Regions from separate parts of the Homo sapiens genome. Here regions 1 and 2 are each linked to region 3. Evidence: fine-mapped expression QTL. A gene starts in region 3. Each other region holds a variant in brackets. All regions are shown on one strand. Distances are between the middles of the regions.

The links.
Region 1: its variant is fine-mapped to the expression of PNPLA1 in whole blood (TOPMed, PIP 0.95).
Region 2: its variant is fine-mapped to the expression of PNPLA1 in blood mononuclear cells (TOPMed, PIP 0.90).

What each region holds. Positions count from the first base shown.
Region 1 is chr6:36,306,698-36,309,197 of GRCh38, reverse strand. It overlaps PNPLA1 (patatin like domain 1, omega-hydroxyceramide transacylase), which reads right to left. Exons shown (of 9, transcript NM_001374623.1): 8 at 1,486-1,611. Among named protein-coding and RNA genes, the nearest start is that of BNIP5, 29 kb to the left of the region's middle. The variant A/G (reference allele first, on the strand shown) is at 1,517.
Region 2 is chr6:36,297,038-36,299,537 of GRCh38, reverse strand. The region is part of intron 5 of PNPLA1 (patatin like domain 1, omega-hydroxyceramide transacylase); the gene reads right to left. Among named protein-coding and RNA genes, the nearest start is that of PNPLA1, 28 kb to the right of the region's middle. The variant TA/A (reference allele first, on the strand shown) is at 1,109.
Region 3 is chr6:36,268,415-36,271,220 of GRCh38, reverse strand. PNPLA1 (patatin like domain 1, omega-hydroxyceramide transacylase) reads right to left here and starts at 1,161. Exons shown (of 9, transcript NM_001374623.1): 1 at 557-1,161. The coding sequence starts at 761. RefSeq lists an enhancer at 2,467-2,806.

The sequences.
Region 1 (2,500 bases), 38 kb before region 3:
AATCTCCGCTACCATACTGCTTCCCACCACTCATCAAGTGCATTGCTTAGACTTCGAGATGAGCCTTTGGCCGCCGGGTGAGCCTCTGACCCTTGTCTGTCTGATAAATCCCTGTGCCCATCCAGGGACCCCACTTGGGACAAGAACAACCAGGAAGGATGTTGCTCAGAATGATTAGAGGTTTTTCTGACCAACAAAGACTTGAAGCAAATTATATAGCAGTGCAGGTCTGTTCCATTCAGAGAATACTATGTTGCCCAGCCCAGACTCCAACTCCTGGGCTCAAGCAATCCTCCTGCCTCAGCCTCCCGAATAGCTGGGACTACCGGCACATGTCAACATGCCTGGCCAATTCAGAAAATACTTTGATAACCCAATGAAATAACTGTAAATAATACCCGACTTGGTTTGAATCTGAGGCTCTCATTTTGAATTTGCGAGTCTGTTTGTATACATGCATGGGGCTTTACTTAAAATATGATGACTCGGTAAAAAAATTAAAACTTGGTTTAGGTGGGACTCAAAGTTCATCAGATTCTTAGGTTTTAGTCTTATCTTTGATCTAAAGTTAGACTAGGAGTAAACTGTTGAAACTTGGGGATAGAGTTTTAATTCATTTTTTATTTTGCCAGAGTCCAGGAGAGTGTTTGGCACTTAGTAGGTGCTCAATAAGTGTTGACTGACTAAGTCAAAGACAGCATAATATAGTCAAAAAGCTATAAGAAGCAGGCCTACATTGACTAGGGCCCTTAACTGTATGCTGGCAACATTTGAGTGTCACGTAGGCACTCACTTGTCTAGTTTTGTTTTGTTTTTTTTCGAGATGGGGTTTCGCTCTTGTTGCCCGGGCTGGAGTGCAATGGCGCAGTCTTGGTGCACTGCAACCTCTGCCTCCTGGGTTCAAGCGATTCTCTTGCCTCAGCCTCCCGAGTAGCTGAGATTACAGGTGCACACCATCAAGCCTGGTTAATTTTTGTATTTTTAGTAGAGATGGAGTTTCACCATGTTGGTCAGGCTGTTCTTGAACTCCTGACCTCAGGTTTTCCACCTACCTCAGCCTCCCAAAGTGCTGGGATTACAGGCATGAGCCACCATGCCTGGCCTGTCCAGTTTTGTATTTAAGTAGCATAAATACAAACATAATATGTAAACATAATACCTACTTATTGTGAGCTATTACACATTCTGCATTCTATGAAGCAATTTACATCATCGATCACATTTAACTCTCACAACTTTATGAAGTGGTATCATCCCCATTTTACAGGAAATGGAGGCTCAGGGAGAGCAAGTGTCCCAACCATGATCCCTGAGTGGAGCTGTGGCAGAGCAGGAATTTTATGTCGGATGTGTCTGTTCCAAAGCCCAATCTCCCACTGCACCCCCTACTCCCTTACACTCTCCTCTATTCCTCGGAATCTCTCTGAACACAGTTCCCAAAGCTGCTCCTCTCCGTGGGATTTAAGGAACATTAGACATGCTCACTGCACTTTGCTGCTTGGTTTTTTGGATCCCG[A/G]ATGTCTTGGGAAGCCTTTTCTGGTGCCACTTGTCTTTTGCTTGTTCTTCTTGAAGACCTTATTCACCCAGTTTGAGTCTTCAGCAGGGCTCTCCCTAGGCAAAGAGATTAAGTAGATGGTTCATTATGGGCCTGACCTCGGTCCTCCAACATGGTGGCCTGCTCAGCTCCGCAGGTGGACACACCCGCGCTGTGGTTCTCAACCCTGGCTGAGGATTGGATTTCCCAGCAAACTTTTTTTAAAATATAATCAATGAATATTTATCTAAGTAACATCATGCCCATGAGTCAAATGAAACTCCGACTTTTATAGAGTTATATGTAAATGCAAAAAAGTTTAAATTATGTGAACAAAATGCATAACTTATGCCTAAGCTCAAAATTGTTAAATTTATACAAACTCTTTCAAAAAGTTTTATGGTTAAAATTATACTTAATGTGGGAAGCAGGTAAATTTTAATATGCTTGATGTGAGAGAGAGTGCAAACATTAAAAGCAGGAATGCCTCAGGCCCTGCTCTCTCAATACCTGCAGCTGTGGTCATGGAGAAACCCAGCTACTGCCAGAGTGGTCCCAAGGCAGGGAGGGATGAGAGGGGGGCTGGGGTTGTGGGGAGAAATACCCTTGACCCAACTTCTGATCTCCTGCTGTGCCTCCCCCACCACCAGTACAAACGGCATTCAGCCAGCAAGGGAGCCTGGGTAATGTGGTCCTCAGGGAAGTTTTTAAAAAAGCAGATCCCCAGGTCCTCTCATAGTTATTGCAAAGATATAATGGAGTGTATGTTATGCAACCCAGACACTTGATGTGCATAATAAAAAAGATTTTCTGGGGACAGTCTACAGTCTAGTACTATCAGGTCATTATCATGCTAATAGAAAATAGTTCGGAGTAAGGAAGGCCTTTGATAGAGACCCTTAATTCATTTCATGCAGGAGCTACCTAAGGCTGGGAGGTAGGATGCCTGCAGGCCCTCTTGGAACT
Region 2 (2,500 bases), 28 kb before region 3:
ATGGCGAAACCCCGTCTCTACTAAAAATGCAAAAAATTAGCTGGGCGTGGTAGCGGGCGCCTGTAGTCCCAGCTACTCGGGAGACTGAGGCAGGAGAATGGTGTGAACCCAGGAGGTGGAGCTTGCAGTGAGCCGAGATCATGCCACTGCACTCCAGCCTGGGTGACAGAGCGAGACTCCATCTCAAAAAAAAAAAAAAAAACAGACAAAAAAACAAAAAAAACCCCAAAAGTTTTGGAGGAATGGGAACGCTCATCCACTGCTGGTGGGAATGAAACATGGTACAACTGCTTTGGAAAACAATTTGGCAGTTTATTAAAAAGTCAAACATATATTCTGGTTATATATCCAAAATAATTGAATAGGATCTGGAAGAGACATCCATGGGCACTGCAGCATTATCCACAATAGCCGAAAGATGGAAGCAACTCCAGTGTCCTTTGTCAGATGGATGGACAAAGAACATGTGGAATATATTCAGCTCTAAAAAGGAAGAAAATCGGCCAGGCGCGGTGGCTCACCCCAGTAATCCCAGCACTTTGGGAGGCCGAGGCAGGCAGATCACGAGGTGAGGAGATCGAGACCATCCTGGCCAACATGGTGAAACCCTGTCTCTACTAAAAATACAAAAATTAGCTGGACGTGGTGGCGTGTGCCTGTAGTCTCAGGTACTCAGGAGGCTGAGGCGGGAGAATCGCTTGAACCCAGGTGGCAGAGGTTGCAGTGAGCTGAGATCACACCACCACACTCTAGCCTGGACAACAGAGCGAGACTCCGTCTCAAAAAAGGAAGAAAATCCTGTCACATGCTACAGCTACAACATGGATGAACCTTGAGGCCATTATGTTAAGTTAAATAAGCCAGTCACAAAAAGACAAATACCGCATGATTCCATTTATATGAAGTACCTAGTGTAGTCAAAATCATCAGCACAGAAAGTGGGATGGTGGTTGCTGGGGGCTGGAGGAGGAGAAAAGGGGGAGTTGTTGATCAATGTGTGTAAAGGCTCAGTTTTGCAAGATGAAAAAGTTCTAGAGATCTGCTGCACAACAATATGAAATAGTTAACACTACTGAACTGTGTGCTTAAAATTTGTTACGTGTTTTTT[TA/A]CCACAATTAAAATATTTGTGTATGTATGTTAAACATGAATGTACCATGCAATCCCGTCATTCCATTTCTAGGTATTTACCCAAGAGAAATGAAAGCATATGTCCACACCAAGACTCATGCGTGAGTGTTCATAGCAGCTTTATCCATAATAGCCCAAATCTGAAAATAACCTAAATGTCCATCAACAGGGGACTGGGTAAATGGGCTGTGGTATATGCATACAGTGGTATATTCAACTCTTTTGGTAGATGAGCTGTGGTACATTCATACAGTGGCACGGAACGTAAAAAGGAACAAACTATTTATACATTCAACAACATGGATGAATCTCAGAATAATTATGCAGAGTGAAAGAATTCAGATTTTTAAAAAAGAGTTCACATTGTAGTGAATTAATCTATAATGGCAGAAAGCAGATCAGGGGTTGCTTGGGAATGGCGGGGGGTGAGGGAAGGTGGGAGGGATCACGAAAGGGCATGAGGAAATTTTGGGGATGACGAATTATTCACTAACTTAATTGTGGTGATGGTTTCACAGGGTGTGTGTGTGTGTGTGTGTGTGTACAGAGAGACAGAGTCACTTACCAAACTGTGAGAGGGAAGAAGGGAGTGGGGGAGGAGGGCGGAAGAGAGGTTTGGCCAGGCATGCCTGAATGCCGGATGGATATTTTAGACATGGCATCCTCTGAGCTCCAACCTCACTCAGCACCCACATTCACACATCTGTGTGGGGAATGCGGATTTTCAAGCACGCCAGCCTGCGCTGCCATTCCCTTTGGCAGAAGGCCGCTGCAAGGATGGGCCGAGTGTAGACAGAGTGGCTTGCCTGGCAGCAAGAATAATTAATTCTCCTCCCTTGGGAGGGAGGAGAAAGAGGCTGTGAGAATGTGAGCTGAGGAATGGAGGGTGACACCTTTTGGGGTGTAGTTTCCTGCTGGAGGTGACCCCTACCCAGAAAGCAGCCCAGGGGAGGCTGGGCGGACTCCCATTTTCTGTTCCCAGATGGCAGGTGGGGATAAGAGTGTGGCTCTGGAGACCAACTGCAGTTTCTCAGTATGTGTCAGTAGTTCCTGTTCACATCTGATGCAGAGAGAAAAATCCAGTCCCACCAAATCCAAGAGGACTGAGGTGGTGGAGGTGAAATCTGCGCTGAGAAACCCGTGCCATACACTGGCAAATCGGAAGAGGAAGCAAAAATAGCTGGTAGTCAGCACGAGACCATTTCTCCTTTAGGAGTTGTATCTGTTCCTACTTGGAGTGATTCCAGGGCCATTGAAGAAGCCTGCCCCCATCCATATACTGGCTCAATTTTGGGGACAGATTCCTGAAGTGCCACCATCAGATTTCACCCAGCAGTAGGCGGGACTGACTGTGGCTAGGACTCAGCACTT
Region 3 (2,806 bases):
ATTCTCTCCCCACCCCTTCCTATTCTTCTCCCACTCTGGGCTCCCTCCTGTCTACCCCTCCAGCCTCAGGGCGTTCATCTTTCCAGCCACCTGGAAATGGTGGACAATACGTCCCCATCAGGGTGATAGAGATTTGAAGAGTTGCCTCTCCCAAGGGTATTTGCATTTTGAAAGAGGCCAGGCAGGAGCAACACTGAACCCCAATGTATGACTGTGCCGTGGTGTAGCTTCTGACAGCACCATGTTCGATGTTCGAGGGAGATACTGTCCTTTACTCTCCCAGGCACTGGGAGACAGAGCATCTCACAGGTAAGGGCACTGAGGGAGAGGGACAGGGGTCCAGGCTCACCCTGCATGTTAGAGTCTGGGGCCTGGCAGACCCCAACCTTCAAACGTCACAGCTGCCGCTATCCTACTCCAACCAGCTCTTCCCTTCCCTTCCTGCCACCCAGGCCTGGCTTTGTCCCCCAAAGCATCCCCAGCCTCCCTCACGCTCCTTCTGTCTCTGTGGAATCCCCCAAGAGACTTCCCAGGGGACCCAGAACACAGGCCTCACCCATTTCAATCCCGCAGATGGCCAGGGCGGCGATCACAGCACCTGCCGATGTCCCCGCAAAGCGGTGGGCTGTTTCCAGCATCCGGGGGGCCAGGTCCCGCAGGGCGTCCACAGCCCCCGCCTGGTAGAAGGAGAGGAATCCACTGCCCGAGAAGGAGATGGAGTGAGGGGTGTCCGGGTCCCCCTTGAACACCTGTTCTTCCATCTCCTCGGCCTCTGACTTTCTGCGGAAGGCGGAGCCACCCTTCAGCACTTGCCTGCCCGAGCCTGGGCTGCCGCTCCCTGTAGGAACTCCCTACCCAGCTTCCCTGCCACCCCGGAGCTTGGAATGTGGCTGTCTCTACCCGGCTGGAGCAACCACAGGCTGCTCAGGAAGCTGCCTCAGCCTGTTAAGCTCCGCCAGGAGGCAACTCCAAAGGTTGGAAAGGGGCCCCAGAATGAGATGCAGAAGGCTCCCCCGGTGTGTGAGCAGGGTCTTGGTCCTGTGAGCCCCCCACTGGCTTCATTTCTTGGCTAGATTCATCTCGGGCACGGGATCCTCAGCCCTCTGCCCATCCATGGTATACCAGGGCGCATTCACTGCTCCCCAGCACAGGGCCATGCCCAAGGAGGCGGGCTCTGCCCAGCCCTCAGCTGCAACATTCAGTTGCAAAACCTCCGTGATGGTTATCGGTGTACACCTCCCTCCCCAACATGCTGCTGCGGCCGTGAAGGGCTTCCAAGCCCGCCTCCCTCCAGGAGGACGGTGCCTACCCCATCTCTTTTGGACGGGTCCCCCAAAAGAGATGCCCCTCCTGGGCTCCTTCAGGCTATGTGGTATGTGTGATGTGTTACACAAGCATTTTTATTTGTTTTTCTTACATAAACACCCCTTTGTTTATTCACTTGTTTATTTACATGTTAGCATTGGCCCTGGGTAAAATTTTAAGAGAAGTGTGACTTTGGCGGCCCCACCCACCACCGCCTCTGCACCTCTCTCTGTTTCTTCTCCTGGGCCCTTCACTGACCCTGTGACCTTGGTCAGTGCCCTCTCGACAAGCCCCAAGCCCTCATGCTATCTTCTAAGTGTGCAGGAAGAAATCAACCTGAAATCTAGATCATTCTAAGTGTGTGAGGCTTCGTGTTGCGTGTTCTTCTTCCCGCTCAGAAATGAGAAGTTTGAGATAGCAATGTTTAACCCCAAGGAGGAGCAGCTGGGGAGGTCACCTGTGGGGACGTCGGGGTCAGGGCAGAGAGACGTTTTGGTAAGGGAGGTGGTGTGAGAGGACCAGGGTTAGCTCCAGGGGCTGCGGTTCTGCCCCCTGAGGGGCTGTATCATGTGGTCCTGATGGGGAGGAGTGGTTCTCACACCCACAAAATGTCCCCTCATGGAGATATAACAAAGAAGGCAAGATGGCGTCTCCCGCTCCCCTCAAAGACCACACAGCAACAGGACCAGAATCAGAATCAAGACACCAAGGCCTCCACCAAGTGCCAATCCAGGATGTGACATCAGTGGCTTCCCCGCTTCTGGGGAGCTTGCACCATTCTGGTGGACTCACTTATCTGCATGGGAATTCCACAGTGAGGGCAAGGCCAGGCTTCAGTTAGGAGGGAGTTTTCTGTCTTGGGTAGGTAATTCCAGGCATATCATTGCCTCAGGTTGAAAAGAGAGCTTTAGATTAGATAAAGTGTGTGTGCGTACATGCGTGTGTATGCATGTGTGCATGTGTGTGCAGATATCTGAGGCATACTGCTGGGGTGGGGGCGGGTGTGTCAGGGTGGAGTCCAGTCAGCTTTTGGACAGCAGAGACCCTGCCCCCTTCCTGGGAGGTGAGGTCAGCTCCACTGAGGGCTTGTGTGCCAAGCCCTGTGCTGTGTCGGGGCCCTGGGGGACAGGAGCACACAGAAGCTCCATCCCCAAATCAGATATTTGCAGGCTTCTTGGGAACAAGACAGGCAAATGTGAAATAAGCAGAAAACTGTACAAGGCAATCTATAATTAAGTACTAAACTGTGCAGGGCTGAGATTCCTGCCAGAAAAGTTAGGAGGCGGGGCTGAGCAGTGTGGGCTGGAACATCTGAGGAGCTGTGCGGCGGAGGTGTGGGCTGCGGGACTGGAGGCAGCTGGGAGGAGCAGGCAGGCACTGGTCGAGGAGCAGCAAGAGCCCCTTGCAGAGAAGGGAAGGGGTGTAATGGGACCTGTTTCACAGGATGAAGGGCTTTGGATGAGAACCCTTCTGAGTCATGACATTGGATCCCAACTCTGCT